Homo sapiens: one gene and its partners. The protein of the gene in region 3 interacts with the protein of the main gene of each other region in a pairwise test. Each region holds a gene or a part of one and is shown on either strand. Other genes may lie near its edges. The genes, in order: REEP4, EBAG9, TPRG1 and CIDEB.

Region 1 (7,537 bases), on a different chromosome or scaffold from region 3:
CCGCCACATCCACCCAGATGAGGCCTTGGAGTCCTAGGTGACATCTGGATCTCTCTTCTCCCATATTTCATAAGCCACCAAGTTCTCTCCATTCTTTGTCCCAAAGGTTTGCTAGATGGGCACTTTTTTGTTTTGCTCTTTCCCAGCTCAAAGCTTTGTCCAAACACTCTTCATCGCCCATTGTCTTGGGTCCCTTGCCAGCCCCCACCAACCCGCTTCTCAGTCTGATTTTTTTTTTTTTTTTTGGAGATGGAGTTTCGCTCTTGTTGTCCAGGCTGGAGTGCAATGGCGCGATCTCGGCTCACCACAACCTCTGCCTCCCAGGTTCAAGCAATTCTCCTGCCTCAGCCTCCTGAGTAGCTGGGATTACAGTCATGCACCACCACACCTGGCTAATTTTGTATTTTTAATAGAGACGGGGTTTCTCCATGTTGGTCAGGCTGATCTTGAACTCCCGACCTCAGGTGATCTGCTGGCCTCAGCCTTCCAAAGTGCTGGGATTATAGGCGTGAGCCACTGAGCCTGGCTTTTTTTTTTTTTTTTTTTAAAGATGGAGTTTCTCTCTTGTAGCCCAGGCTGGAGTGAGGTGGCCCTGTCTTGGCTCACTACAATCTCCGCCTCCCAGGTTCAAGTGATTATCCTGCCTCAGCCTCTTGAGTAGCTGGGACTACAGGTGCCCACCACCACGCCTGGTTAATTTTTGTATTTTTAGGAGAGACGGGGTTTCACCATGTTGGCCAGGCTAGTCTCAAAGTCCCAACCTCAGGTGATCCGCCTGTCTCGGCCTCCCAAAGTGCTGGGATTACAGACGTGAGCCACCACGCTCAGCCATCGGTCTGATCTTTCTAACACACACTTTCCTCCTGTCCTCCCCTGCTCAGGAACCTGCCTTGGCTTCCTGCTCAACAAACCCATGAGCCTCTGCCCACCATGAAGGTTCCTGTGACCTGGTCCCACCGTACACACCCAAGCCCTGTGGGCAGTCAGGGTCCCTCAACATCTCTGTGAGTGGAGTCGAGAGAGTCTAAGACAGTCAGATGGGGGCCGGGTGGGGGACAGTGCTCAGGGTGTCAGTGCAAGTAATGGGGTCTCGGGGACAGCACACTGAATGGCAAAACAGGTGTTGTCAAGCTGTGGGGACCCCTTTTCTCCTCTTCCCCCATGGGCTTGAGTAAATGAAATCCTTTTGTGGCCTTGTGTGGGTTGGTGACAGTGTAAGGGACAGGGGATGGAAACGGGGGAAATGATAGATCCTTGGGCAGTGGTGCTTGCTGTGTGACCCTGGGCAGGTCAAATCCCTTCTCTGAGTCTCCAGGTTTTCATTTGTCCTCCAGAGCCCCTCTCAGCTCTCGCATATCACAAAAACCCTTCGTTTCTCTCTCTTCAGCGAGCACCTGTGAGCAGCTGTGCACAGAGGAGTGGGGTCTGGAGCCTGGATAACATGGGTGTGAATTCTGGCTCAGTCCCTTTCCATGGTGTGAGATTTCAAGCAAGTCAGCTGATTTCCCTGAGCTTCAATTTCTCCTTCTGTGAAGCAGATTTAAAAACCCCACTTCATGGGTTCCTGATTCTGCCAGCCGGGTGAAACCAGCTAGTAACATTCAGCCACGTTACTTAGCCTATTTGTGCCTCGGTTTTTCTTATTTATAAAATGAGTATAATCGTGATACCTACCTGACAGGGTTTGTTGTTTGTTTTTTCCAGCTTAGGCTGGAGTGCAGTAGTGCGATCTTGAGTCACTGCAACCTCAGCCTCCTAGGTTCAATTAATTCTCCTGCCTCAGCCTTCCAAGTAGCTGGGACTACAGGAGCACGCCCCCACCCCTGACTAATTTTCATATTTTTAGTAGAGATGGGTTTCACCATGTTCACCAGACTGGTCTCGAACTCCTGACCTCAATGATCTGCCGTCCTCGGCCTCCCAAAGTGTTGGGATTACTACAGGCATGAGCCACCGCATCCTACCCTGACAGGATTATTTCTCATGAGAGTGAAATGCATTAGTATATGTAAGTCCATTTGTATAGTGTGTCCAGCACATGATTATGATTTGCCTTGGTCTATGGGAATATATGAAAACAGAAGTGGCTCAGAGAGGGGTGTTTTGTGCAAGAGGAGGAGGTGGATCTTTGGAGAGAACTGTCTGTGGGTGATGGTTCCTCACCCATCCTCAGTCTTGGAGCCCCTGTGCCCCATATCTTACCTGCAGCCTCTGACCTGGCCTCCTCACCCCCAGCAATAGGTGACTTACCTGCTTTTCACCTCCTCAAATATGCTCTTAGCTTAGCAGGCACCTCCATCATTCTGGGGAGGCCTGTCCTTCTTTTCCAAATGGGAAACGGGCCCTTATCCTGTGCTTGGGAGAGGTTGCCAGGGAAAGTGGGTTGAGTCTCCCAGACACGCTGGCACTCTGCTGCCCAGTAGAAAGATAAATATCACTTTGACAGCTGCTGCCCCCAGGGGGGAGCTCTTCTGAGGGGTGGGAGGCACTTTCCTCCCTTGGCCCGAGTGCCTGGCTTTCTGTGTGTGCCTGCTGGGTCACTTGCCCTGGGGCTTGTCCACGTCCAGAGTGCTGCTTAGCAACCCAGTGGAATTGGGTGACTGTGTCAACAGCTCAGGACCAAAGGCTGCAAGAGGCAAGGTCTACTCACTCTGCCAAGACCAGGGATGGTGACACTCCTCAGCTGCCAGCCTCTTGCCCTCCGTGCTGAGCCTTGCTGTCAGCGCAGACCTCTGACATCTCTTCTCTGAGATTTCCCAAGCACAGGCATTGGGACCAGGAGTCTCCATACGGGAGACCATCCCAGCTGAATGAGCTTTGGGCGGGCCCAGGTAATGTTTCCCAGCAAATGGGGGTAGACAGAGGCCTGTGATGCTGAGGTCAGGTGCGTGGCCCCAGAAGGCAGCCAGCAGGGAAGGGACAGTTCTGCAGCACGCACCAAAGGACCCGAGGCTCACGTGTGCAGTGACCTCCTGAGTCATGGATGTCCCTTTCAGCTGCTCCCCTATTCAGTCACAGCTTTCCTCCTTCAGGGAGACCCAGGACACTTTTCACCTAGAGAACCATGTCTGTGCCTAAAGATGGACAGTGGCTGGGGCCTTCCTTAGGAGTTCCTCTAGCCCTTGGCCTTTTTGGTTACTCCAATGTGTGTGTGTAAGGGGGGACAGGTAAATGTGAGGGTTGGTTAAGAGAGGAGAGGGAGACATGGGGCCTCGGGGAAGTTTCTCCTGTGGGCTGGTTTCACTGCTGGCTCTCACACCCAGCAATACCAATAAAACTGATGACAGTAATTAAGACCATATAATCACCGTGTGTTTATTTATCCCCCAGAAGCCTCCTTTCCCTGGCCCCATGATTACCTATTCCATCCTTATGATAGCTGGTGGGGGTTAACTGTGGCTCCAATAAAAAGCAGTAACTGCCTGTGTTTCCACCCCACATGCCCGGACAGCTTTGCTCCCACCCTCTGCAAGGTGGGGGGACACTATTTTCAGAGGGAACAACAGAGGCAGTAAGCTGAAGATGTCAAAAAGAATGAAACCTCACAGGGCAAGTAGTAGAAGCAGCAACGTTTGCCTTCTTTTTTAGAGCCTTCCCCCTTCTTCCTGGCATCTGCCTCCCTCCCAGAGGAACTTATCCGGTTCCATGGCCCTCTGCAGGGCCACTCAGCCTGCAGCTGCTGATCTCTCAGAAGACTGATCAAGCCAAGCATGTAGCCACCAGCCAGCAATAAATACCACTGGGTGATACCAGGAAAGTTACTTTTCACCACTGAGCATCCTATTTCCTACATGGTTAAAAGAAGTTTGCAAAGACTAAGACCTTGCGTGCAAACGTGCATTACAAAATGGCAATGGTTGATACTACTATTAAGGGCCCAGGGTTATTTGTGTACTTGGCTCAGAGGAATAGGTGGAATTTCAAACTTCTGCTGAAGGAGTGTGGGAGCTGAGAGCTCTACCCAGAATGCCTCAAATCATCGCGGTCAGCCTGCCCCGGAGTCAGGGATCTGGAAAGGCATCCCAGAGAGAAGGGAACCCCTGAAACCTGGTGGGGCAAAAAGTCCCTCAGGTTCCCTCTCCCCCCACACCTCCCCCCTTTCCCTCCTGGACCCACTGGTGTGAGACCCGGACTTGCTGGCGCTCAGCCAAGCTTCCTTCCAGCTCCTGACTGAGCCTGCAGAGGAGATCCTTCCCTCTACCCCACCAACCGCATCTCATGCCTTTACCCGGTTCACAGAGGGGAAAATGAGGCGAGAGGGAAAGACACCGGGAAAAGCCAGTGAAGGGTCGCTTAAACTCTGGAGTCCAGATTTTCTTTGTGTGCCGACCCCCGCACTCCCCCTGCTTTTTTGTTACAGCTTCCCACACGCTAATCTTTCCGATTGGGAAGGTGGCTCCACTGTGGGCCCCACGCGCGAGTCCCGCGGCACATCGCCCCTTTAAGGGGCCGGCCTCTCGCCTCCCTGACCTCGCCCCGCCCCCTCCGGGGCTACACTGCGCCTGCGTGGCAAGCCGGAGCCCTGGGGTTGGGCAGCACTCGGTTCCGTGCAACTTTCAAGTGAGTTGCGAACTCCGCCCTGTAGGCCGGTGCTGGTGGCCCGGCGCGCTGGAACCGCGGCGACCCGCTCCAGCGCGGGACCAGCAGCAAGGGCCGAGCGCCAGGTTCTCCGCGGCAGAAAGGGCGGGTGGGAGCTGTAACTGCCCCGGCCGCGGGGCGCGCCCGCTCCCAAGTCGGCTTCCTCCCCGCCGGGGCCGCTTTGCCTCGGGTCTCCCCATTCTCCAGGTCCCCTGAACTGCACAGTCGGAGGCCGTGGGCGGCGGGCTCTGCCTCCGCCGAGGGACAGCCGGATCGCCCCTCTGCTTCCCGCAACTGCCCTGATCACCCCCCGTCCCAGCCCTTGAGTGAACGTCCTTCTGAGCGGCTTCCTGGGGTCCTCCCCACGTCCCAAAGGCCGGCAAGATGGTGTCCTGGATGATCTGTCGCCTGGTGGTGTGAGTATGGCCGCCCTCAGACCTCCTCTACCCCGGGGTGCCGTCCCGCCCCTGTGGTGGAAGCTGTGGACGTCTAGTGGGAGGAGGAACTTTCTGAGCTCCACCCTCCAGCACTCCATGCAAGGGTTAACGGACCTGTGGGCTTGCACGCGGTGTCTGGGGCACCGCAGGCTACCCGCCCCACCAAGCCTCGTTGGCTGAGAACGACCCCTGCCGCACGCCACACACACTGCAAACAGATGCGTGGAGCCGAGGGCCACAGGCCTACCTTGCTGCCCCTTGGCAAACACAAGGTGATATGGCACGTTGTGGGCGGAGAATCCAGGTGCCTGCTTGCCATCTGAGCAGTCACATGACTCACCATCCTATTCCTCACCTTTGAGTATGCCAACATCTGGCTCACATAGCCCTATCTGCAACCCAGCAGTGTCAGGTCTGGTGACCCTGGGCCTGATTGCATGCCCATGGGAGGGGACAGTCTGGTGTTCTCACCCACTTCGTGGAGTGGCTGTCCTCTCACTCCATCATGCACCCATGGGCCACCGGTGCAGGCCTGGGCAGGCTTGGGATGTTTGTAAACAGCAGGGTGGGGAGGTGGCCTCCAGGGCTCTGACTCAGGCACGGGTTGTACAAGCCAAGCGAGAAAAACAGGGCGGGTACTGCCACCTTGCACCCCAGTGGGGGGAAATGGCCACTTGGCAAGGTGGGAGTGGGGCATGGTGCCCCTCACACTCCCCATGGCTGCTCTTCCAGGCTGGTGTTTGGGATGCTGTGTCCAGCTTATGCTTCCTATAAGGCTGTGAAGACCAAGAACATTCGTGAATATGTGAGCGTGGGGGTTTGGGTGTGTTTAATAGGACTTGGTGAGGTGGGGAGGGTCTCAGTTGGCCTCTCCCTCCTCCAGGGGCAAGGCTGTGTGGCACATCCTGAGTGGAGTGGGGAGGGAGAGAGAATGGGCCCTGTTCAAGAGGGTGTAGATAGAGGGCAGGCCATCGGGGTGCCTGTGGAAGATCTGGTGGGTGAAGCTTGTTGGAGGCGGGCATAGGAATGAGCAGCAGTTTCTCAGAGCTCCTGTCCAGCCATGTGTGGGGGAAAGCAGCTATGCAGCCGGACAGGCTCCCTGGAATCTCTGGGCTGGGCTGGCCTGGGTTGGGAGTTGGTGCTGCAGGCCCCATGCTGACCTCTGGGCGCTCACCCCACAGGTGCGGTGGATGATGTACTGGATTGTTTTTGCACTCTTCATGGCAGCAGAGATCGTTACAGACATTTTTATCTCCTGGTATGGACGCAGGGTCCGCAAGCCATGGGTCAGGGGTGGCCCCCCCAGCCCTGCTCCTTGGCTCACCCTGCCCCTTGTGCTGTGACAGGTTCCCTTTCTACTATGAGATCAAGATGGCCTTCGTGCTGTGGCTGCTCTCACCCTACACCAAGGGCGCCAGCCTGCTTTACCGCAAGTTTGTCCACCCGTCCCTGTCCCGCCATGAGAAGGTACCCCAGGGGGAAGCGGGAAGGGAGGCTTAGGGGTGGGTATGAGGGAAAGAGCCCTGGACCTGGGATTTAGGATGCTGGGGACACCGGGGTTCTATCCCAGTCCTGCTGCTATTGAGGGGCAGGACCTTGACAGGGCCCAGCCTACCTCATCTTCTGGGATAATCAGGTGGGGGTACACATGAATGACCTTTGAGGATGGAAATTGGTTTGGGGGTAGTGGTGGCGGCAGCTGGAGCATGGCCACTCATGGAGGTGTGAGCGGGTGGCAGCCCTGCTCTTGGTCTGTGTTTGTGGCCCGGATTTGTGGCTCTGGGCACCAGGTGGGGCTGGGCTGGGCTGGGTGGCGCCACAACCAGTGGCTTCTCAGAATCTGCAGAGGAAGAGGGACTCTGGCTGTCCACCTGAGCTCTCCTCCCCATTGGGTCCACAGGAGATCGACGCGTACATCGTGCAGGCCAAGGAGCGCAGCTACGAGACCGTGCTCAGCTTCGGGAAGCGGGGCCTCAACATTGCCGCCTCCGCTGCTGTGCAGGCTGCCACCAAGGTGCTCTGGGCCCCCAGCCCTCCAGCAGCCCCCATCCCACCCCTAAGGCCCTTTGGGCTCATTCAGCTCCTCTGCCAGGGAGCCCAGAGATGGCAGCCGGGGAGCAGGGGTGAGAAGGTGACGGGGGGGTATTGGCAGAAGCGTGGAGCTGGAGTCAGACCTTCCTTCCTGGCTCTGGCACTGAGCGTAAGCAGCGGCTCCTGCTCTCTGACTTTGGTTTCCTGTTGGTGCCACATTGGCGCGGGGCCAGAAGCTTGCTGAGCAGTTTTCACTTCTGCGTCTCAGCTCCGGTGATTAGCTGGTTGGCCAATATCCCTGGGCAGCCTCCCCGCTGAAGCCTCTTCCCCCTCGCAGAGTCAGGGGGCGCTGGCCGGCAGGCTGCGGAGCTTCTCCATGCAGGACCTGCGCTCCATCTCTGACGCACCTGCCCCTGCCTACCATGACCCCCTCTACCTGGAGGACCAGGTGTCCCACCGGAGGCCACCCATTGGTGAGCGGGCAGAGGGGC
Region 2 (8,017 bases), on a different chromosome or scaffold from region 3:
TTATATATGTAAACGCTATAAATTCTTAGGAAGAAAATAAATTTATTAAGTTTTTCACATCAAAAATTTCTAGTATGATTATGAGTTCAATTTTCAAGTGAAAGTAATCCTTAAAGGATTTAATTTCAAATAAGAACTACGTACAAAATATAGATTTAAATTAATTTTCACTGTATGAAATGTACAGTATACATAGACCAACTCCTTTAACAAGAATTTCTGGTATGTCTTAAAGGGCATGGGTGGTTAGAGGGAGATCCCCAAACAAACAATTCAAAATTAAGAGTTTAAAAAGCAACAATCAAGACACATATCCTCCTAAGTGAATTTGAATTAGACACTGGAAAATTTAAAAAGGTCAGTTACTATGAAGAAGGTGTAACAATATTTATATTAATCAGACAGCAAAGTAACAAACTGACTTAGAGGAAGGAAAATAGTAAAATACAAAAGACTAAGTTAGCAGATCATTTTGATATCCAGATGTGCTGAAATGATGGACACTGAGAAGAAAGAATAGACAAAACTTGGCAACAGATCTTGGTATGAAATAAATATCCCATGAGTAGTACATAAAAGCCTGGAGAGAGAGGGGAAGGATTGTAAGTGTCATAGTTCTGACAGCTGCTCTTTCATCCTATGCCTTTAAAACAAAGGGAACAAAGAAGGGAACAAAGAAGGTAGAAGCGGGGGTATGGAGGGTTGACTTCTGGCTGTCCCTCCCTGTTTCCCTTTGTTAATATATTGCTAGTAGACATGTCTACTTCTGGTTGCTGATGACATAAAATTCACCTCTATTTCTTGGAAGCACTATTCCATGTTGTGAGCTAAAGGGGATTGTACTGATCTTGAAGATAACAAATCTGCCTGCTTCAAAGGTTTCACCGATTTTATTGCTGTGTTTCCAACACATTTCCACATATGGTATGATATTTAATTTGCAAAATAAATCCGTAAAGCAGGAATTACTAACCTAATTTTGCAGATGAGAAAACTGAGGCTTAAAGTTGTTCAAGGTCAAAGTCACGATGTCCATCATGCTGTAGCTCAATGAATGAGTCTCACATTGTTTCATGTTGTTTTATTTCTACTTTCTCAATCCATGTACAAGATAGATTTACAAACTACTGTTTTATGTTGGTTGTATGAATTTCAATACATTTACTGTTAGAAATAACAAAAGGTCTTAGACTGCCAGATGCTGTTCCCATCAACTCTACTTAATTCATAATATAGCTGAACTCTGTCATAAATCTAATAACGATGTGGACATTAGCCAGAAGTATGATGTGGCTGAACCTCACCACTGAACACAAAATGAGAATTCACCTCATCTTTTCATTTGAATTTATTTCTACTAAAATATATGTATTATTTTTCTTGATTTCTAACCAGGCCCCTTCTGAAGAAAACTGGTTAACTCTAAATTGTTACTAAATTTTGAATCTTCCTGTATTTAGCAATAAAAGTTACTGCTAATTGTAATAACAATTATGAGGAAAAATTTATTTAAATGCTTCATAGAAAGTTAATTTTCATTTAATAGAAAAGAAATAAAAAATCTGCTTCAGACTGTTTGATTTCTCTATTAGGCAATTGACCCTAACTAGTATATGGTGATTTTGAGTATTAAAAAAGAAGTTATAATTTTCCAGAATATTAATGTTTATTATTTTGAAAGCAAGTAAAATTCTCCAGTAGGAAGATTAATAAAACAATTCATTAAAATTCTCATCAGAAAATCCTATGCTTTCAAATGTATCTGCTCAAAGATGTCACTCTATGTGCGGCAAAGCTTTGTTTTACTTGATCAAGAAATGAATGTGACTTTATGATCTTGTATTCAACTGTGAACAGCTGCTCATTAATAAAAAGCCATTAAAGTCCAAGTCAGAACAGCAGGTCTAAAATTGTGTTTGAGGGAAAAAAAACCCACCCTTTGATGAAAAGCCAGGGAACTGGGTTGGGAAAGATCTGGAAGCAGAGGGCTGTGTTTGCAGTCTGCTCCTACCTCCTGGGCCAGGTCAGGTGACAAGGCCAGAGTTAGCCCCAGCTGGAGAAGTCAGAACAAAGCCTATGTAGGCTTTGAAAGGGGAGAGTAAGTGGTGGGCTGGAGGTTGATAGTGTGAATAAATCAAGCTGGTAATTGGGCAGAGGCTGATCAGAAGCGTTAAAGTGAGCAAAATGGTTTGGACACAGAGCAGACAGAATTTACTATATTCCATTGAGTAAAAGAAATTCATATGCCAGGTTCTATCCCTTATGTTCCTCCCATTTGACATCTGGTGGTTTCCTACCCCCGTCCCACACAAGCTTTGGGGAGAGGACAGGACTTAAAGTTCCCTGTTCCCAAGAGGTGGTCCCTAAACCCAATCCCAAATTATTGACTTGTGATCCCAATTATGGGCTTACTATTTAACAAGTAAAGATGATTTTAAAATATTATTTTATAGGTATTACTAAAGTAAATTTTAAATTTGCAGTCTTTAGCGAGCTTTGTTTTCTGTTTTGCTATTGTGTTGGGAAACAAGTACTCAGTAACTAGCTGTTTCTGGAAAAGTATATACATTTCGTTTTGTTTCATTTGGAAATGGCAAATTTAATAAAGAAAACTGAAGAATCAGGAAAAAGAAGAAAATATCCTTGGGCATAATAAATTGTCTAAAGCAATCAACTCTTTAAGAAAAAAAATTTAAACACGTTTATATCCGAATATAGGTTATTTTGGATTTTTTTTTTTTTTTTTTTTGAGTCAGGGTCCTGCTCTGTCTCCCAGGCTGGAGTGCAGGGCCCAATCATGGCTCACTGTAGTCTCGACCTCCCAGGCTCAGGTGATTCTTCCCACCTCAGCCTTCTGAGTAGCTGGGACTACAGGCATGCGCCACCAAACCTGGCTAATTTTTAAATTATTTGTAGAAACGGAGTTTCGCCCGTTGCCTGGGCTGGTCTTAAATTCCTGGGCTCAAGCGTTCCTCCTGCCTCGGCCTCCCAAAGTGCTGAGATTACAGGCATGAGTTACCGTGCCCAGCTAGATAACTCGATTTTTTAAATCCAAAAAAAATTTAGAAATTTTATATTGAAATTTAGGCATTAGAATTCTAGAGATTAAAGTTAGAGCAGGTGTTTAAGGGACTGAAAGGGGTTGCATGGCCTTTGGGAAATGCAATTACCGGAAATGATACTGTAGTAATGCAATAGTAATGCAGTAGTAGTAGTAGCTGCAGCAACAACTGTTATCTATGAATGTTTGCTATGTGCCAGGCTCTGTGCTAAGAGAGCTTTGCAAGCATTACTACTGCATGAAGTAGGCACTATTATGGCCATTTTACTGATGAGGAAATTGAGGTGAACAGATTAAATAATTTTACCCAACTTTACACAGAACCATTCCAGAGCACGAGCCATAAACACATCTTTCCCGTCTTGGAAATTAAATTATTAATAAAAAACGTGGTGCAAATTGGAAAGAGGACGGTTGTGGTAGATTATCACAAAGTTAAGTGGGTAGGTGGTTGCTGGGTCAGGGTGGGAGAACAAAGGCAGCTGTAATAAAAAAAAAAATTAAAGGCATATAAAGAAAAAGGCTTGTTGAGAACAATTTGCATAAACTGATTTTGGCCTTAGACCCTATTCACTTCTCCCTCACCAGTCACTTTGCAACTGTGGAGCATAGTATTCTGAGGGTCCCCTGCACATAACAACCCCTTTCATAGCATACAAGATAAAAAGAAGAATCAGGCTGCAAAGAGAGAAGCACTGAAGGAAAGAACATCTCAGGTTGAAAGAAGGGCAAGTCCAGGGTGCATGTGAGGAACAAATGCATGGACACGGTGAAGTGCCACTTCTTCATTTCTAGTTCAACACAATTCAATTAAAAATTACTGGGAGGAGGCTACGTCTTGAATTAAACTCAGCATTCCACATCTTTGAGGTGGCGGAATGACTGAGGGGAGGGGGTCTGTCTAGCCACATCCAAATCTTCCTGAGACAGAGGGAGATCCCTCATTTGTTGCAGTGTATTTTCCTTGGTCGCATCTGACACAGGGGTTCTGTGGGTTGAACAGAAAGGGACTTTGCTGGAGGGGAGGCACTCTGCATAGAAGGAAAGTAGGGACATCTGGCAGAAGCAGGCGCTCCGAGAATAAACAGTCAAAGCAGCTCGCAATAGTCCCAAAAAGCTACCCCTCACCGAACCTGGCGTGCCTGTCGCCGCTTGCCCCGCTCCCAGGGCTCATTGGCTCCCAGTCTCGACGTCAGACCCGTAGCCTCTCACCTATTGGGCCAGCCAGGACCTGAGGCGGAGTGCAGAAGCGAGGGCCTGGAGACAGCCGAGAGCCGCCTTCAAGGAGGGCTGGGGGCGGGGCTAGAGGAGGGGCTGGGGGCGGGTTTCCCGATGAAGGGGCGGCCATGGCAGCTGCGCAGAGGCAACGCAGGCTGCTACGGAGCGCGCGCCCGGCTTTGAATGAGCGGGGCTGGGAGTGAGCGGGCGGAGCGCGAGCTCGAGGAAGAGACAGGCAGCGCGCGTGAGCGCGCCTTGTGTGCGCGCGCGGCCCGCGGCAGCTCGGAGCCTCCGCCGGGCGGGCGGGGAGGGGGAGGGGCAGGTGAGTGTGTGCGGTTCGCGCGTGCCTGGGAGGGGCTTTCCTCTCCCTACCCCCATCCCGACCCCAGCCCTAGCCTCTGGGGCATTGTCTGCCCTTCGCCGTCGGCCCTCCGCCTAGCCGCGCACTTCCCGCCCTCCCACCTTCCTTTCGCCCTTCCACCAGACCTCCCTCGACGCCCGACAGCTGCTCTGGGTACTGTTTCCGGGTCAGGGTGACCTCTGGGGTGAGGAAACTGCGACTGGGAGCGGGACCCAGGCGTGCAGCATTCGCCATGCTCCGCTCACGCGTGGGAGACTGGGCTGTGGGGTACCGGCCCGGAAAGCACGCAGCCTCCAAAGCCGCCTTCCTCAGGGAAATTTGCGTGACCTTACTGCCCTCCGTCTACAGGCCTTGTACCTCTCCAGGCCGATTTTTCCACAATTTAAATCTCAGTTCACCTGGTATCCAGCTCCAGCAACTTAGAGCGTTTCACGTCACGCCGGGCGCCAGGCGTCGGCTTGTATAACCTGAAAACGCTCCTGTTTTTCTCATCTGTGCAGTGGGTATGATTTTTTTTTCATCAACAAATTTCACGTGGGTAATCTGAAATGAAACCACTTAAGTTATGAAACTCTTTCCTTTTGAGTTATTCTGGAGACCTTACTCCGCCTTCGGAACCGCCCCAGTGGTGTCACATACTTGAGGGCCTGACTCTCGGTTGCCAGACATGGCACAGAATGTTCGATTTTACTACCAGCTCTCACACTCCGCTTCTGTTTCCCCTTCTCTTACGGGCCGCTGCTCAAACCTTTATTTATCAAATTTAAGTGAGTTCAGGTAAATTTTATTTTGGGAGCTTTGTAATATTTTCTAACCCACTTCAGAGAGTTATAGTTTGAGGATATTCTGGACTGTACTAGATCATATGGTTTTCAAATTTTGGTATGAAAAGATTCGTAAATAGAGTTTTAGAAATACAGCACCTGTTTAGTATGTACCGAACATAGATTTTGGCTTTGCTTGTTTTGTGAATTGTGATGTATTGAGGCTACTTGAAAGGACCTCTAGCAGTTTACCGAGAATTTCAACAAGAAAAGATATAATACATTTGATCTATCAGTTTCTAATGTAGCATTCTTTTTTTAATTGTATTTTTTTTCCGTTAACATGGCAGAGCTCTCATTCTTGATTTCCTAGAGTTGTCATTTCTTCAAAAAGCCTTAATGAGGATACATTGCCTCATAGTTTTGAATCTCATTCTGATATACCTCAAATTTTTGTCTTTGTAATTTTTAAGGAAATTTAATGTTAAGATTAGATTATATTAACATTGTTCCGTTCTAGAAAGTGTTTTAAAGCAACTAAAGTGTAAAGTAGCGTAAGATACTTATCAAATTGGTGATCTAGAGGGCATTTCAAAAATCGCACTGAGGCAATGTGCACACAATTAAAAGGTTTCTTAAGTAGGATATGATGTAGGGAGAGCCTTGGGCTTTCGGGTCAGTCCCTTTAAATCCTGGGTAAGTGAATCTAAGTCTGTCAACCTCATCTATTAAACGGGAGTAGTGAAAAACCTACCTCTTTTGGTTGTCCTTAGGATTCCAGTGAGGTGATCGAACATTGTCTTGAGCGTTCAAGTGCTCAAGGAATGTTAGTTTCCTTCCATTCAACAAATATTTGAGTACCTACTATGTGCCCGGCTTTGACTGAGACCTATAAATACCAGAATGAGCAAGACTGATGGACGTCCTGCCTCCTTAGTTTCTTGCATTCCTCAGGGATAAGTTTATGGGCAAGCTCATGACAACTGGGAGTGAACGCAGAGTTTCCCCATGCGGAGTTGGTAGTATTTCCCAGCTTCCAAATCCAAAGTAGCGACTGAAACATAGTAGGTGCTAATATATATTCATTTAGATGAATAGGGACATTAAGTAAATACAGGTCTCAAAGGATATTCCTGCCTGCCAGTCAGTGTGATTGATAAAATCAAAGTGTGGCTTGATCGCATTTTCCCTATTTTAGTGCAACTGGTTGGAAAATTTATCTTGGAAGTGGTAGTATCACTGAATTATTAAGAATGTTCCTTGTTCATGAGATGTTCTTGGCTTTTGAATTAAATATACCTAGGTTTGAATGGAGTCACTGGATGTGCTTACTCTGTGTTTAATTCAATGAAACAAGGACAATAGTATCTATGTCATAAGATGGCTTTTTGAGTTGTGTGTTAACATTTTGATAGTGCATGGTTCATAGTAGACAGTCAATGAGTATCAGTTCTCCTCTTTTATTAATCACAAAAGGAAGTTTTCTGCAGAATGAGGATATTCTTGATTGCTAGGGAGAGAATTCTATTCTGTAATCACTAAAAGACCCAGTTTCTATTTTTTATTGGGAAAAAAAAAACAACCTTTAAATTTTACCTCCAGTTAGCATTGAAGTTATTCAAGTTGGCAAATATTTATAAAACAATGACACTAACAATATTTGGAAAGGTGATGGCTGTGGTTACTAGGGCAGTTTATGAAATTTATTCTCAACTTTTATTCATGTATATCCTAAAACTGACAGTCCCAAATGGTAAATATCATTTTTCTTCACAACATACTGATAGAGTATCTCCTTGATTCTATTTCCTTCCCTGCCAAGTACCACACGTTCTGTAGTCTCTTTTCTGGCTCTTTTTTCTTATAATTTTTCAGAAAATTTAGGCTAATTTTCATTTGAGAAAGTTTTCTTTTGATTGAGAGTTTTGTTCTTGACAAATCAGCTTTAAATGAAGTGATTGTTCACCATCATAATTTTTCAGATCATTCTACTCATAATGAAGCAATCAAACTTTTTTTTCAAGTCTTACTTTGCAAATGGTAACTGAAGGTACCAAATGAATAAAATACTCTAGAGAAGGGTTGTACAGGGCAAAGTAAGGTATAGAAATAACCATAATACAAAATAAAAAATGTTGTTTCTTGGGAAGAGTAAAATACTAGAATTAAGAAGACTTTACAGTACTCCAGCAAGAGGTAGTAAAGGCTTATGCTAGATAGATTACAGTGGAAATAGGAAAGAATATGGGCAGTACTGGGAAATTGAATAGGGTCTTTTTGGCAATTAGGTGTAAGGAGAAAGAAAGGAGGAGTCAGCATTGTTGCATGATTTGAACTTGAGTAAACCACTGGTTGGGATGTTTTTGACAGAAGTATTTAAATAACTCGAGTACAATTTTTAATATTCTGGTTCTTTTTTTTTTTTTTTTTTTTTTTTTTTTTTTAACAGTCACTGTTCTTTTCATCCTGTCAATTAGTAGGCCACTTCCAGGTTAGGCATTCAGTAAATCTTTCAGCTTATATGGAGAGACAGCCTCCATATGTACAAAACTACTTGAGTATTGCTAAGGTAACATTTTAGAGCCCTGTCTTTGTACCTTAATAGCCTACAAG
Region 3 (7,589 bases):
TTACCCCTAAATCCCTAAGCTTAGGGTTGTATAATACACCATAGGTGATCAAAAGGTGATTATTATATTAGTGGGTGAATAAGAGAAAACATATCATTAAGCTAGTCTCTAGTATTTCAGCAATTTGGATTCTTTGGAAACAGGGCATTATATTGCTATCTATGTGCTATCATACATCATAATTTCTTTTCTTGTTTTTATGCCATTGATCGATTGAGTAAAGAGGATTACCCTGCAAGTATCAACTGTCCTTCCTATTCTTTTATAGGCATCTAAATATTATGCTGCAGCAGTGTCATCTTGCTTAATACTTTAGCATTCAAGTCACTGAGTTTTGATAGCTAGCTGAAGAAAATATCCTGGGTAGGTATCAGAGCCAACGGTATGTTCTACTGAAGTCATCATATATCCTATATCTCTTACATAGTGAGAGGTTAGGAACAAATAATTAACTTCACCTCTTCCCTGGTGCCATTAACCTGTAGCCTGGTCTGTCATTATGTAGAACTAGGTTTCCGTTGAAAGAGAATGATTGAAAGGAATCCTAATACCTAAGAGATTGGAAGAGATCAGAAGTGGAAAATTCAAACACTTGGTAGCCTAAATCAGGTAAAATGGGAGCTGTGGAGGATGGGGGAAAACATGTTCTATCTACAGGAAGAAGTTGCTGCCCGGCCCCAGCACAGGTGTTATCCATGAGGGGATGTGGGTCCATTATTATCAGATCTCCTGATCTTCCTGAAAACAAGATATCTGGATTTTTTACAGGAAATTTCCTAGATATCAAATACTTTGGAACTAGTTTTATCTTGTTTAACATGGCAGCACAAACAAAGCACATCTGCATGCTGGATTCACCTGTGGCTGCTGCTCTGCAAGCTCTGGAGTAAATGAATTCTCGGACTTGACGCTGCCATTAGATTAAACAATGTTGAGTAAAATATCAACTATCACTTCAAGTTTTAAAAGGATCAAACTGAGTGGCACTTATTTAGGAAGATCCCAGAAAATATAAAAATCCAGACAGGCTGAAGAAAATGAAGATGCCACCACCTCTTGCCCATCTCCCCATCTTATACCTAAGGAGCAGCTCCAACATTTGGCCGAAGCAAATATTCCAGAAGAACCAAGTCAATAAAGAGAGAGGCTTCTCTGACAGATTTCCCTGCTCTAAAGGGCATGATACCATCTCCAGTAGATGCTAAGCAAAGGTCAAAGTGCCCTAAAACTCTTAATTGGAAGAAATCTTAAAGGACATCTAGTTACAGTCTCCAAAATGACATGGCTAATGCTTCTGCTTGGGACTCCTAGCACCATTCACTACATATTGTGGGCAATGAAAGAGTAAGAGACCCATATGTGACTTGCAGCTCCAATGATACTGGCTGTGTGACTTGTGCATATCACTTCATCTTTCTGGGCCTCAGTTTCTCTGTTTTGAATAAAGTAATCAATTAAACGATTTCTTCAGGATCCTTACAGCCAGAAAGACACCAAGAATATATAGAAGTTCCAGCCTGACCAACATGGTGAAACCCCGTCTCTACTAAAAATACAAAAACTAGCCAGGTGTGGTGGTGCATGCCTGTAATCCCAGCTACTCAGGAGGCTGAGGCAGGAGAATCGCTTGAACCCGGGAGGTGGAGGCTGCAGTGAGCCGAGATCGCGCCACTACCCTCCAGCCTGGGCAACAGAGCAAGGCTCTGTCTCAAAAAAAAAAAAAAAGAAGAAGAAAAGAAAGAAAAAGAATATATAGAAGTCTGCCAAAGATTATATAGCATTACAACCCAATGCATTTGTGGTGGCCCCAAGGGATGACTATCAGTACTGTCATAATAAACTCAAACAGACACACACACACATACACACATGCACACACACACAGAGGAAACATTTCCTTCCACAACTAAGAATGATATAACCTTTTGAGCATGAAAAGAAAAATGATAGCTAAAATTAGCATCTTAAAAAGTAAACTACATAATAACTGAAGATGAGATTTCCTTAAAACTGTAGAACAATGAGATACTATGATAGCTGTCACAAGAGAGGAAATTGCATGAGTGTATTTGAAAGGATTTGGGGGTGTTTTTCCCCCATTGAGATTTGCTTTTCTACATACCACAGTGTGACTGAAAAGCTAAAATATTTCCCCAGGGCCTGTATGATCTGTGCCTCACTACGCTGCCTCTGACATTTGGAGAGTGTCATTTAGCCCCGAATTAAAACCTGCTTATACAGAGATCTGGAGGATGTCTCAGGCGCCAAGTAGTCATCGCTGTCTCATTTGCCTATCACCTTTCAGTTTACAACTCCCCTTTACATACATGCCCTCGTTTGTTCTCTAAAAACAGCCCTGTTTGATGGGACCTATATATTATTATGAAATTTCCCTCAGATGAATTCAAAAATAACCCTCTCAAACTGCCTGCAAAGAAATAATCACCTTTTGTTTGCCATTTAACGGTTCAGAAAGGCTTTTCACTTCTTTTGGCTTTTGGGGATAAGGTATGACCTGCTGGGTTCTATAATAGAGGAAGAGGGAAGAAGGAATCAAATCTAATCTTGGCCTTAACCTGCTGATCCAATTGGAACAAATCACTTCAATTGACCAAGCTTCAGTTCACTAAGCCACCAAATGGAGAAAATTATACCCATCCTACTGCACTATAGGGCAGTTAAGATCAAAATCAATATATAGATAAGTATGTCAAGTGGCTTTATAGGCTAAAAAATGCTAGCCTACAAGCCTCATCAACCCTGGACAGTAAGGAAGAATAGGGAAATTTCACATGGTAATGCAAAACTACAAACCTAAACCAAACTGCAAGTCAGTGGGGGAGGTGACCAGAAACTCGGCTTAGGGGACAGAAGCAATTGGTTCATAGAGAAATAACCCATCTCTGCAGAACCAGTGACAAGCCACTTGATCTTACCTGACTAGGCTGGTCCTCAAGGCTCTTCTTTCTCTTTCTGCACAAAGGGGGCTAGACCACAGATAGTGGCCAGGAGAGGTGTGATTGGCTCAGATAAAGCCAGGCAAGACAGTGCCCTGTGCTGTGACCCCACTCAGTCTGAATCTCACTTCACCAAGTAGGCTGAGAGTTACACTGCCACCCTCAAATAGTCAAATGAAAGGACTGAGGATGTTTACAGGGTGGAACTCAACCCGTCAGAGGCAGAGAATTGGGTTTGTGGGTGGGGCCTTTCTTGTTCTGCAATGACACACCTTTACCTCCTGTCCTCTCCCTCAAGAAGTCCTGCATTTTTCTGCCAACTCCCTCTAATACACATCCAGCTGAGGGAGCAGGAGCAGCCTATCATCCATTCCTCCATGGCTTCTGTATGCCTCCAAGTAGTTATAATTAAGCTTAAGCCTGAGGCCTACACTCCTATCATTAATATTCTTTATGATGGCTTGATTTATTGGATATTTGTGATTTTAAGCATCACTACCACTCTTGTCAAAAATGTAGAAGACATGTAGAGCAGTGTATCTCTGAAAACAAACACATGTACACACAATCTCTGGTCAGTATTCCTATTAGGAAATGTGCCACATGATATTGTCTCTATGTAAGTGTGTATCCCCCTCCCTAGATGGGGGGCCCCTTGAGGGCAATGCTACATCTTATTCTCTCATATACTCCTCAAAACACCCAGCAGATAGTAGGTAATAAATAAATACACATTGAATTAATGATGATCCATTAATATCTATTTAGTGAATCCTGATCTGTCATTTAATGGCTTTGCAGCCTATAGCAAGTCATAATCTATCTTTCTGAGGTTTTTTAATTTTGGTCATCTGTAAGTTGAGAGTATCATTTCTCCTTCAGAAATGCAGATAGAACTTGAAAGGAAGCATATGAGAATAAACCTAGGATAAGATTTGACATAGCAACGGTGCTAAAAAAATGAAATAGAATCTTAATGAACACATTCTGAAACCTAAGCAAGTGTGTTCTACATACAGAGTTGGTATAAAATAAAGTATGAACTGCACAAGTAGGTGGATTGCTGAAAGAAAGGAGAGCACAGAAAACAAAATGCTGTTATGTGTATGATTGAATTTCAATCTTCTATCCTAAATTCTCTACTTCATTCAGCAGACTCTGGCCAAATCAGATTGTATTTGTTTGATGGCTGGAGGAACGGGTGTGCGCTGACAAAGTAAATTGGTTGAATTCCATTCTTTTAAAAGAAAAATAACTAATATTCACCCTTCAAAAAATGTTGTTTAAAGTTCCAGGAATACTGAGGTCATGAAGCGATTCCACAGGAAATGAAGTGCAAACTGGCAACTCGCCACTCAGGAGAGGTCACAATGAATAAACAGTCCTTTTACCTGCTTCCACCGTGTCGAGGACGTCATGTATACTAACTCAACAGTAGTTAACTGAGCAACTACCTTGAGCTTTCTCAGTTATCCACATAGACAAGGATATGAAAAGGAACCAAACACATTCTCTGGCATAAGGAGCTCAAGAAGATAAAATTTGTAAGTGAATTAGCATTGCACGATATAGAAGATGATGAGCACCACAGACAGGATCCTAACAAGTACTATGGTAATCCAGAGGAGGGAGCAACTCCAGGAAGGCTGCACAGCGGTGGAGGCGGCATTAGATCCGGGCTGTTAAGAAGAGCCAGGATTTCAACAAGCACAGATGGTAGAGTTGGGTATAAATGTTATTGGTGAGATGGACTCAGCCACAGTTACCTGATCAAACTGATTTATGCCCCCTCCCTAATACAGACCCCAGGCTGAAAAGAGAGTTTTACAGAACCGGTATCTAGGTCACACCACTTAGACGCCACAAAACTACAGGGCAATTAGAAATAATTGCGAGGCAAATACCGTTCCCACTCAGCTCCAAATGTCTTTATGACAGCTCAGGGTGGGGGCACAAAAGGCAGGAGGAGTGGAGACATGCTGGATCCCAGCCTGGTCTCTTAAGAGAAGGACTAAGCAATGCACTGCTGTTTGAAGTATGCTATTTTAAAGGGCAAGAAACTCTGTGAAAAGACATCAATTGTTCACACGGCATCCATCTAATTATCGTTAGGTTTCCAGCGGCCACTGAACACTCCTCCCAGCTCATGCTGAGCTCCGCCATACTGCAGCCTGCAGTAACATAATACATCCAGGAGGGGCACAAGCAGTAGGAGTAATGCCACACGGAAAACCTCAGCTCTGGTCCCTGCTCAGCTGCTCACTGGGATCAGAGGCAAGTAGCTTAGTTTTCCCCAAGCCTTGATTGCCTCTTCCGTGCAATGGGAGTTACAGTACAGATCCCACCAACCTCCCTGGGCTGTTGAGGGAGAAAATGAGCTCCTGGAGGTGATAAGAGCTTTGTAAAATTCAAAGTATTGGTATGAATGTGAAGCAATACTATGACAGAACATATGGCTATATATAAGAATTCACTTCATGTCTGTATTTCCAGGCATAGCAAAGGCTATGTACAGATCTCCCAGTAGAGGACATGCTCAACAGCCAAGGAGCAGGGAAGCACAGAATAATTTTTACCAGATTGGCCTTCAGAGATCATTTCTCTCTGTGTCCTGTCTCTTCTCTCTCTTCTATAATAACCTTTACAGGCCGGGCCTGGTGGCTCATGCCTGTAATCCCAGCACTTTGGGAGGCCGAGGTGAGCGGATCATCTGAGGTCAGGAGTTCAAGACCAGCGTGGCCAACATGGTGAAACCCTGTCTCTACTAAAAATACAAAAATTAGCCGGGCGCAGTGGCGGGCCCCTGTAATCCCAGCTACATGGGAGGCTGAGGCAGGAGAATCGCTTAAGCCCAGGAGGCGGAGGTTGCAGTGAGCCAAGATCGCTCCACTGCACTCCAGCCTGGGCACCAGAGTGAGACTCCATCTCAAATAATAATAATAATAGCTTTTACAAATTATTGTTCTTCCTCTTCTCATTCAGCTCTAGTGTCTATGAGAAATAACGTATGTTGTTACTTATTTAGGTTAGGAAACACTGGTATGTTAGAACCCCTCTTCTGCCATTTTTCAAATGGGGATGGAGTGACATCCTGATGATCACACAAGCTAGTCTCCTCCCTGGACTCAGCAGGGCTGTTCTCTTACACACTGCCTGGGGCAGCAGATGGGCAGGAGGAAGTACAGGTGGCATGGATCCTGGTCAGGTATGAACCAGAATCACCTCATGTCCAGGTCTCCCTCATAGTGGATCATGCAGATAAAAATTGGTAAATAAACATGCATCACTGGGGGTAAATAGGTACTGTCTACAAGAATCCCATATCCCAACTCCCCAGATACACCCCTTGTCCCAGGAGTCTTTTGGGAAAGAGGAGTTCAATGACAATGAACAGATACTGGCAGCAGCTTTTGAAGTGAACAGGTACTAAGCAATATGAATTTCCCCTTCTCTTGCGTTCCAATAGTACACCACACACGTCACTAGTACCGCCCTCTTATAGTTAGTTTTCTTCCCCAATATGCATCTGTCTACCCTCTTTAAAGATAAGGACCATGTCTTAAACAAGACATTCTTTTTAGAATCTAGCACAGTACAATGCCAATAGTAGGTACTCAAAAGATACCTACTTTGACGGATGGGTGGATGAGTAAACGAATGAATATACAAACTACTCTGTTTTCCTTCACAGCCCTACAAGGCCTCACAGCTAGAGAGGTGACATTTCAGAGAAGGAGAAACAAAAAGCCCCTTCTGCTTTTGACAAGGGACTAAATTCAGCCCAAAGCATCTTTTTTTCTCTCTCTATTTACTCCGGACAATCTGTCCCTTATCAGATGAGCTCAAGGCTGGTTGGAAATATGCATATTTTATTTGAAAATATCTGCTTCCTCCAGTTTTGTTTTGCCACATACACATTTGTCTGCTTTGCTGTATGTTGTGTATCAGATAGGACTCAGACAAACTGCTTTGGCTTCCTAAACTGTTTTGTTTTCTCCATTCATTTATCATTGATCTCATTTCCTTCCCTGCATCTCACTCTTATTTCCAAGTTCCAATTTTATCCGCAATGAAAGAGAACAATTTCATTGTCGCACAGGTTCACTGAGGGCTAAAAAGGGCACTGGCATGGAAGTTAGAAAGCCTAAGATTTAGTTCCCATTCTGCCACTAACAAGCAATGTGACCTTCAGAGGATCGTCTCTTCTATCTTGGCCTCTCTTTCTCCTTTGCAAAATAAGGTCTGCTCTTGACAGCCACAGAATCTCGAAGTAAGTGCAATACTTCGAGACTCTCTGGATACCAATCTGCTAATGTTGCACCATTTTTCACACTCATTACAGATGGGGAAGAATTCTTGTATGTTTTTAGCTTTGGTTTGAGACCCAGTGAGGGTCCTCCACTCCAGATCCTCACCTGACTTTCTGATCCACCCCAACCAAGAATGGCTTCATGGGCATGCAACTCGTGCAGTTACACAGGCCTGCAGGTAGAAGGGCCTTGTGCTTGGTTTTGTTCTGCTGTTGTCATGTTGAAATTCTTAATAGTTCTTGAACAAGGAGGCTGGATTTTCACTTTGCACTTGGCCTCACAAACCAGTCCTGCCCCTACTCTTACACTTGCACTCCCCCAA
Region 4 (8,090 bases), on a different chromosome or scaffold from region 3:
GGGTAGCCACTTGAGCGGCCAACCATCTCAGTTTGTTGGGAAACCGGCAGGGCTGGGACAAGGAGTTTTCAGTGCTTAAACTGGGAAAGTTCCAGGCCAACTGGGATGAGCTGGTCACCTTAGTGACCACAGATGTGTACTTGTGGATGTCCCCTGAAAAGAATCCCATTCTACATCCCCCAATCAAAGGGGTCAGGATCTAGAACCGTTTTTAGACCTAGATAAGGATTCCAAAAGGTGGGGGCAGAGAAGTATTGGGGAACGGGCTAGGAATAGCTAGCAGCATCTTAGAAGGAGCCCAGACTTGGCAAAGAGAAAAAGAATATGTGGCACTTCTCTGAAAAATTATTCCTGTCCTCTAAATATTCCTGCCATTCCTCATACCCCAATGGCCAACCTCCAAACTTCCCTGACTGAGTGCTTGCTCCTGGCTCCTTTTCACGTCAGGTGGCCTTTGCAGGGAGGATCAGATGGTCAGGGGGCAAGGTAAGTCTCAGACTCCCAGGGCCCCTACACCACTGTCCACTCCTTGTGTGCCTGTCTCATACTCACTGGACCAAATACAAGACAGGCAGGAAAACTTCCTTTTCAAACCCCACAGATTCATTTTCCCCTTCAGAGCCATTTCCTCCTCAGAGGCTTTTATAAGCCTCAGAGAATGGATCCCATTCCTACCCCTCATCCAAGCTCCCATACCTCTCCTTCCATTTTCTCCTTTATTTCCAGAGTGGTTCTATGGGTTGGCCTGTGGAACCAGGGCACCTGGGCTGAGGAGGGCAGGTCAAGATGCCACTGAAGGCTGGCACTGCCCAGCCTGGCTTGACCCAGCAGGGAACTAGGTGGCTTCAGTACAACTCAGGCATGAAGAACCACCAGGGGAAGCACACTTAAGTCATCATCTAATGGCTTCCCAGTGTATTTCACAATAACAGCTATTGGCAACAAGTAAGCAATGCTGGCACATGGGTACATGCCAACTTGCAAGCACACAATAGTCCTTAACAGGGACCATCACCACCCTCATAATCCCTCAGTTTGGAGGAGCCTGGGCCTGCCCCAAGTGTATAGTAATCCTACCCAGCCAGATCCAAACTCTAGTCAAAGAAGGGTCCCCAAATGTCCCAGAACACTGACCTCTGGAGGGTGGGTGGGGGGTGGAAAGGGACAGGGAAGGGCAGCAGGTTGTAGGGTCTGCTGTCAAAGGTCCCATTCCGGACCGTCCTTCTCCATCCCACCCCCCGGGTCTCCATTGCCGCGGCCCTGCCCCACCACTTTCAGCTGAGGGGTAGTTCGGAGCTCCATGGTCCCTTCCCTAGAGCGGCCGCCCCCTCGGGCCTCCCCAGAGCCTTCGAAGAGCCGCGTGAGGAAACGGGGACCTGCCCGGGGCAGCAGATCTCCAGCGGTGAAGACGTAGAGCACCGGGTTGACGCTAGAACTGAAGAAGGCCAAGGCCGTAGTTCCCGCTCGCGCCGCCTGGCCGGCTCCGCCCAGCTTCGCCAAGGCCCCTTCCGGTGGAGCCAGCGCTGCGACCGCCTGCAGAAGGTTGACTGCGTGGTAGGGGGCCCAGAGCAAGCCGAAGGCAAGCACGATGGCGCTCACCAGCCGGCCCACCCGCGCCCCGTGCCGCCCGGAGCCCCAGCGGGCGCCCCGCAGCCGTGCCAGCGTCACGCTGTAGCAGCCGAGCATCAGCCCGAAAGGAAGCACGAAAGCGGTCAGAGTCTCCAGGCTCAGGTGGGCGGCGGCGTGGACCGGCGACGGGTGGCACAGCTGGCATACGCGGTCCCTCCACAGGTGGCGGTAGACGGCGGCCGGGACGGCGAGCAACAGGGCGGCCAGCCAGACCGCCAGCAGCAGGCGGCGGGCCAGGGCCGGGCTGCGCAGCCGAGGCGCCAGGAAGGGGCGGGTGACTGCGAGGCAGCGCTGCAGGCTGAGCAGGCCGGTGAGCAGCACGCTGGCGTACATGCTGAGCGCGCACACGTAGTACACCGCCTTGCAGCCCGCCTGGCCCAGCGGCCAGGCCTGCCGGGTCAGGAAGGCCACAAAGAGCGGCGTGAGCAGCAGCACCGCGCCGTCGGCCAGCGCCAGGTGCAGCACAAGCGTGGCCGCCAGCGGTCGCCCCCGTGCAGGCCGCCAGCCCGCCAAGCTCCACACCACGAAGCCGTTGCCAGGCAGCCCCAGCAGCGCCGCCAGCAGCAGGAAGGCTGTGCCTGTGGCCCGCGAAGTCTTCCAGCTCAGCAGTGTCTCGTTCCCTGGGGGACGGTAGCAGACCGACATCCTTCTGGGCCTACAGGTGGGTGGAAGGCGCCACAGAGGGCGTTCAGGGGTGGGGCAAAACCCCACCTGTGATGCCCGATGAGAAGGTGCCATGCCTCCTCCTTACTTCCCTGCAGCCTGCCTCTTTTCTGCCTGGGAGTCCTGACTTCCACGAGGACCCAGACCCCACCTCAAACACAACTCCTTCTTGGAACCCAGATCCCCTGCTCCCAGTCAGTTGACCTGCCCCACTCCTGGCCTCCTTCCCAGAGCTCAGTGGTAAACAGGCATAAAGTCATCACCCCAGGCTGTCACTATCTCTACCACCACTCCTCTAGTCTGGCCCCTCCTTCTTTGTCCAGCCCCATTCTAGCACATCTGGGCAAAACTGGATGGTGGGGTGTAAAGGGACGTGCACAGATCTACTTACCAAGCTGGGAGCAAGCAGGATTGGGGGCCTGGAGAAGCTGAAAGGTTAAGCAGCAGTAGGCGAGGTGCCTACTCCTGTCCTGTGCCTATCACATTTGCAGAGGGTAAGACAAGAATGGGGAGGGACAAGATGAGGCTCATCCTGGGCCTCTCCTGGGGCCCCTCCCTCACCCTGCTCCTTCCCATCACCAACGCACCCAGGCGTCCAGGCATGTGAGAGCCTGCCTTGCCAGGAAACAGCACAAGCTGAAGTGGGGCAGTAAGATTCCCTGGTGGTGGAAGGAAATAGGAGGACTCTGCTGAATCCTGGTCCTGCTTCTGTTCTCATCCCTCCCCCAGCTCTGGCCCCAATCCTCCCAGCCCACCTTCTGCAGTGTGTATGTTGCCTGGTCTCTCTGGCCTGCAGAGGTGACCCAAACAACTCAGTCCCCCACCTGCCTTATCCTTGCCTGTTTCCAGTCTCCTGGTCCGGCTGAGCCCCTGGCCTCCTACCTCCTCCCACCTCTTGCCTCAGGCCCTGCCCCAGTCACTCCACCCTCAGGGCTCTCACCGGGCTGTCAATGACAGCTTTTCCATGTAAGGCATGGTGCTAGGTTCCAGGAGGAACAGGGGATGCATGGAGGCATAATGGTTAGGGAGTCATGACACACAACCATGAAGAGGCCCCATTACCAGGCTGCACCAGGATACAAGACAAGAAAGGAAAGGATGAGTAGGGACATACTAAGAAGCAGCCCTCTCCTCTTGGAAAAGTCAAGCAAAACTTGGAAATGAAGAGATTTGAGGGGGGCCTGGCAGATGGATAGAGCTGGGGGAAGGGAAAAGAAAGGCCTCTGCTCAAGTAACAGCCAGAACTTGAGGTTGCTTGGGGAGGGCACCAGGAGCACTGTCTTAGTTTGGGTTCTTCCAAAGCAGAGCTTGAGCTAAGGGCTTGGGTACAGGTGATCCTGTATTCTTGAGCTAAGGGCTTGGGTACAGGTGATCCTGTATTTGGGAGGTTAACTCAGGAAGTGAGGGCATAAGGTAAAACAAGAGAGAGGAAAGCCATTAAGAGTATGTTAAGTCCCTTCAGTAGGCCTTGGGAACCTCTGAGAAAAGTATAGATTGCCCAAGACAAAAGACTGGCAGGGTGATCAGTCCAAAGCATTTATTAGGAGAATGTACTTAATGAGTGGGCTACAGCGTATCCTCACAACAGACAGTGAGAGAGAGTTGTTCTACCTGGGTATATCCAAAACAAGGGGGTCAGGGTATGGAGTTTACGAGGGTTCAAGGTATTTGGTTCAGGGCCAGGGCCAGTTTTTTTCAGTGTTTTGGGCAACAACCTGAATACCTTTTCAAGGCTCTGGCTTGGGCTCAAGCCTGCAGGGGAAATGCAACTGGCCAGGTCACAGGGCAATCAAGTTACTCTGTGTTTCTTTGTCAGGACACAGAAAAAAAGTGGGGAAGCTGGGGGACCCTACAAGGATCCTTGGCAGGAAAGCAGGGATTGTGTTCATTTGAGGGTTTCACTGTCAGTGAGAGTCTCAGCTTCCATGCAACTGTCCATCACGGCTGCAACTGAAATCAGAGCTGGGACACAGCGCACCAGAAGCTAAAGTCTTGATGCCATCAAAGGACATCCCTGCCCCATTCACATCTCTGTCACGTCCACTAATCGGCAAAAGGAGAAAAGTGAGAGAAGATGACCTAAGTGTGACTGCAGCAGGCAGCTCTGGAAAATGAAGCCAGAGCAGTGAGCCAGCCCCTCCTCCGACCAAGGAGGAAGGAAAGAGCAGGTAAGCAGGAAGGCCAGTGTCCCAGACAGGACCCTAATGATCCTGAATCCATGTATCAGGATCCATCCTCTCCTTACACCCTTCCTGGACACAGTCTCACCTCTCATTTTCCAAAGCCCTGCCATGCTGCCATCCCACTTCCCCACACTCTGCCCCGGGTTCCCTTTTCCTAAAGCTGCAGCTTATGGCTTCTCCAGTAGGTGGCAGCACACACAGAGCCACTCATAAACTGCAGCTTCTCAGAGCCTGAGAGCCAGAAACCGTCCCCAGAAATTCCCTCCATAGAAATAAAAAAACACCAGAAGTCACATTTCATCCTTTTACATGGTTCCCATCTACCCTCACAACACATGTCATCACCAAAGACACACATACAAGCTCCAATGGCTTTTGCCAGGCAATTCTTCCTCCAGGACCCCATCTGGCCCCTCCCTCATCCCTCCCCTTGGACTTTGCCCTTCTTACTGGCCAGGCAGGGGGGCCAGAGTCCAGGCTTGACTCATTCCCACCTTGTCCTGGGCTGAGATCCCAGGTTTGTAACAGAAAACACCACTAAAGCCCCAGCACAGGAGAGAACCACCCAGCCCAGAAGTTCCAGGGAAGGAACTCTCCGGTCCACCATGGAGTACCTCTCAGCTCTGAACCCCAGTGACTTACTCAGGTGACTGCTAACCCTCCGCTCTACCCTCCACCTTTAGGGGATATAGGCAGGGCAACAATACTCCACTCAGCCCCTAGGAGACTAACCAGTACCCCTTCCTCTCCTGCTCCCCACTCCACAGTGGGCTTGTCAAGCTCCTGAGCCACCCGCCCCCACCTGCACTCCATGGTCTCTCCCTCATCCCTAATCGATAAACCTAGATCTCTCCCTCCCTAGCCCTCTAGCCACTCTACCCTCATCATGCCCTTTACACTCACCAAGCCCCTCCTCGCCCCTTCTTGACTTTTCTTCTCAACTACCAGGTCAGTATCTAATATAAGCTCGGAGTTTGGACGGAGGGTCTGGACCTCAGCTCCACCACCCCAGCGACCTTTCCGTGTCTGTGATCACAAGCGGACCATCCGGAAAGGCCTGACAGCTGCCACCCGCCAGGAGCTGCTAGCCAAAGTAAGTAGGCCAAGTTCCTCGGTTCCTATAGCAGGGGTAGCCAAGGGGCTCCACAACAGTGGCAACTTGTGATGATGGAGCAGAGGGCTGAAGTCACACAGCTGCCCCTCCCTCTGAGGGCTAAAAGCAGCGGAGTGGGCCTAATGAGCTCTGGTCAATTTGTTCATTTTCCACCGAGTGAGCTTTTCTATGGGAGCAGGGGTTAGCAGGAGATAGGGAGAGTTCGAGGGACAGAATTCAGAAGCTAGTATGGAAAGGTGATTTGTGTGACAAATCAAGTTCAAATTCTGATTCTGCCACTTCCTGCCTGTCAAACCTTGGGAAGTTGTTCAACCTACCAAAACCTCAGTTTCTTCAACTATAAAAAGGCAATAATAATACATCACCTCCTAGGGTTGTTGAAAGGAGTAAGAGGATAATGTAGGTAAAGTCCTCATACCTGGCACAGAGTAAGGACTCAAAAAGGTTAAACACTATTACTGAAAACACTTCTGGAGAACTCTTGAGGGTGTGGGAAGTGAGGTGCAGCATTGTAGATAAGACAGAAGGGTGGACTTCGTGAGAACCTGGCTTGCTTTCCAATTCCAAACCAGAAGTGACTTGGAGGGGAGCAAGGGGAGATGCCAATGACATGGTAGGAGCAAAGAGGAAAAAGGTCAGCCTCTAGCTAGGATCCCCCAAAAACTGAAGAACACGGAGAGCTGCAACCTTTAGGAGGTATCAAAGTGCCGGAAAGTCAAAGTGGGACATCGACCAATGTCTAGAGCCAACTGATGGATGTTGGGCAGCTAAAGAGGGAAGGGGCATGGGATAAGACCTGCCCTTCTTGCTTCTTGCCATTGGGCAGGCATTGGAGACCCTACTGCTGAATGGAGTGCTAACCCTGGTGCTAGAGGAGGATGGAACTGCAGTGGACAGTGAGGACTTCTTCCAGCTGCTGGAGGATGACACGTGCCTGATGGTGTTGCAGTCTGGTCAGAGCTGGAGCCCTACAAGGGTAAGAGGCCTATACTGGGGCTGCTTCCAATGCCTGTCCTTTAGAGCTTTCCCGGGCTTCCTCTCTAGCTTAACCCTGATCCTGGGGACCAGGTGCAGGAGGAGTTGTGGAATTGTCAAGGATGTCACACAGTGGACAGAAAGTCCAAGCGAGGGAGGGTCTGACCCAGTGCTGATGGAGATTAGTGGTGGGTGTCTGGTATGAGGATCTACTGCACTGACAAGGGTGTCCTACAGAGTGGAGTGCTGTCATATGGCCTGGGACGGGAGAGGCCCAAGCACAGCAAGGACATCGCCCGATTCACCTTTGACGTGTACAAGCAAAACCCTCGAGACCTCTTTGGCAGCCTGAATGTCAAAGCCACATTCTACGGGCTCTACTCTATGAGTTGTGACTTTCAAGGACTTGGCCCAAAGAAAGTACTCAGGTCAGAAATCAACATGTCATACTGCCCCATCCCCTACAGTTGGATAGTCCCCATAATTCGTCCTCTTGCACCCACCTACCCCTAGTTAGCTCTTGCTTGTGGAAAGTCCTCATCTCCCAGCTTGATGGCTTCCTCCCAAGTTTTCCAAATCATCTGATTTCCTCTTGTCTCTGCCATTCAGGGAGCTCCTTCGTTGGACCTCCACACTGCTGCAAGGCCTGGGCCATATGTTGCTGGGAATTTCCTCCACCCTTCGTCATGCAGTGGAGGGGGCTGAGCAGTGGCAGCAGAAGGGCCGCCTCCATTCCTACTAAGGGGCTCTGAGCTTCTGCCCCCAGAATCATTCCAACCGACCCACTGCAAAGACTATGACAGCATCAAATTTCAGGACCTGCAGACAGTACAGGCTAGATAACCCACCCAATTTCCCCACTGTCCTCTGATCCCCTCGTGACAGAACCTTTCAGCATAACGCCTCACATCCCAAGTCTATACCCTTACCTGAAGAATGCTGTTCTTTCCTAGCCACCTTTCTGGCCTCCCACTTGCCCTGAAAGGCCAAGATCAAGATGTCCCCCAGGCATCTTGATCCCAGCCTGACTGCTGCTACATCTAATCCCCTACCAATGCCTCCTGTCCCTAAACTCCCCAGCATACTGATGACAGCCCTCTCTGACTTTACCTTGAGATCTGTCTTCATACCCTTCCCCTCAAACTAACAAAAACATTTCCAATAAAAATATCAAATATTTACCACTAAGACTTCTGACTCCAATTTAAACCAGGAAAGGGATGGGGTGGATACCCCATTTTGCCCTCCCCCATCAACACCCAGTCCCAGATCCAAAGCCTCAGTCTTCAAGTATGGAGTTCAATGCCCGCCTCCGCTTGGCCACCGCACCCTGCTGCTGTTCCCAAGCCTCTCGCCGCTTTAGGAAGGTAGTCAAGGCCACATTTCGAGCCACATGGTGGCCGAAAGGGTCTCTTATCAGCTCCTGGTTCTGCTCCCCTGCAAAGGGAACCACTCATGTTTAGTACTACCATGCTCAAAGACAGACTCTACTTGACGTAAAGATCCCTCCATTTCCCCCAGACCCT

Evidence for each region.
Region 1: the proteins of TPRG1 (region 3) and REEP4 interact in binary tests that used the Homo sapiens proteins (3 or more experiments, as listed by UniProt).
Region 2: the proteins of TPRG1 (region 3) and EBAG9 interact in binary tests that used the Homo sapiens proteins (3 or more experiments, as listed by UniProt).
Region 4: the proteins of TPRG1 (region 3) and CIDEB interact in binary tests that used the Homo sapiens proteins (3 or more experiments, as listed by UniProt).

What each region holds. Positions count from the first base shown.
Region 1 is NC_000008.11:22,138,908-22,146,444, reverse strand, and holds the start of REEP4 (receptor expression-enhancing protein 4), read left to right. Parts: upstream 1-4,537; 5' UTR 4,538-4,962; coding exon 4,963-4,994; intron 4,995-5,747; coding exon 5,748-5,820; intron 5,821-6,196; coding exon 6,197-6,273; intron 6,274-6,361; coding exon 6,362-6,482; intron 6,483-6,915; coding exon 6,916-7,029; intron 7,030-7,383; coding exon 7,384-7,519; intron 7,520-7,537. UniProt on the Homo sapiens protein: Microtubule-binding protein required to ensure proper cell division and nuclear envelope reassembly by sequestering the endoplasmic reticulum away from chromosomes during mitosis.
Region 2 is NC_000008.11:109,535,319-109,543,335, forward strand, and holds the start of EBAG9 (receptor-binding cancer antigen expressed on SiSo cells), read left to right. Parts: upstream 1-4,854; 5' UTR 4,855-5,143; exon of another isoform or gene 5,144-5,407; intron 5,408-8,017. Other genes in the region: EBAG9UORF (uncharacterized protein LOC139907707), read left to right, coding at 4,408-4,482. UniProt on the Homo sapiens protein: May participate in suppression of cell proliferation and induces apoptotic cell death through activation of interleukin-1-beta converting enzyme (ICE)-like proteases.
Region 3 is NC_000003.12:189,167,479-189,175,067, reverse strand, and holds the start of TPRG1 (tumor protein p63-regulated gene 1 protein), read right to left. Parts: upstream 3,098-7,589; 5' UTR 2,937-3,097; intron 1-2,936.
Region 4 is NC_000014.9:24,304,849-24,312,938, reverse strand, and holds CIDEB (lipid transferase CIDEB), read left to right. Parts: upstream 1-4,961; 5' UTR 4,962-5,080; coding exon 5,081-5,121; exon of another isoform or gene 5,122-5,423; coding exon 5,424-5,568; exon of another isoform or gene 5,569-6,415; coding exon 6,416-6,565; exon of another isoform or gene 6,566-6,801; coding exon 6,802-6,992; exon of another isoform or gene 6,993-7,173; coding exon 7,174-7,306; 3' UTR 7,307-7,752; downstream 7,753-8,090. Other genes in the region: LTB4R2 (leukotriene B4 receptor 2), read right to left, coding at 1,198-2,274; NOP9 (nucleolar protein 9), read right to left, coding at 7,844-8,001. UniProt on the Homo sapiens protein: Lipid transferase specifically expressed in hepatocytes, which promotes unilocular lipid droplet formation by mediating lipid droplet fusion. Lipid droplet fusion promotes their enlargement, restricting lipolysis and favoring lipid storage.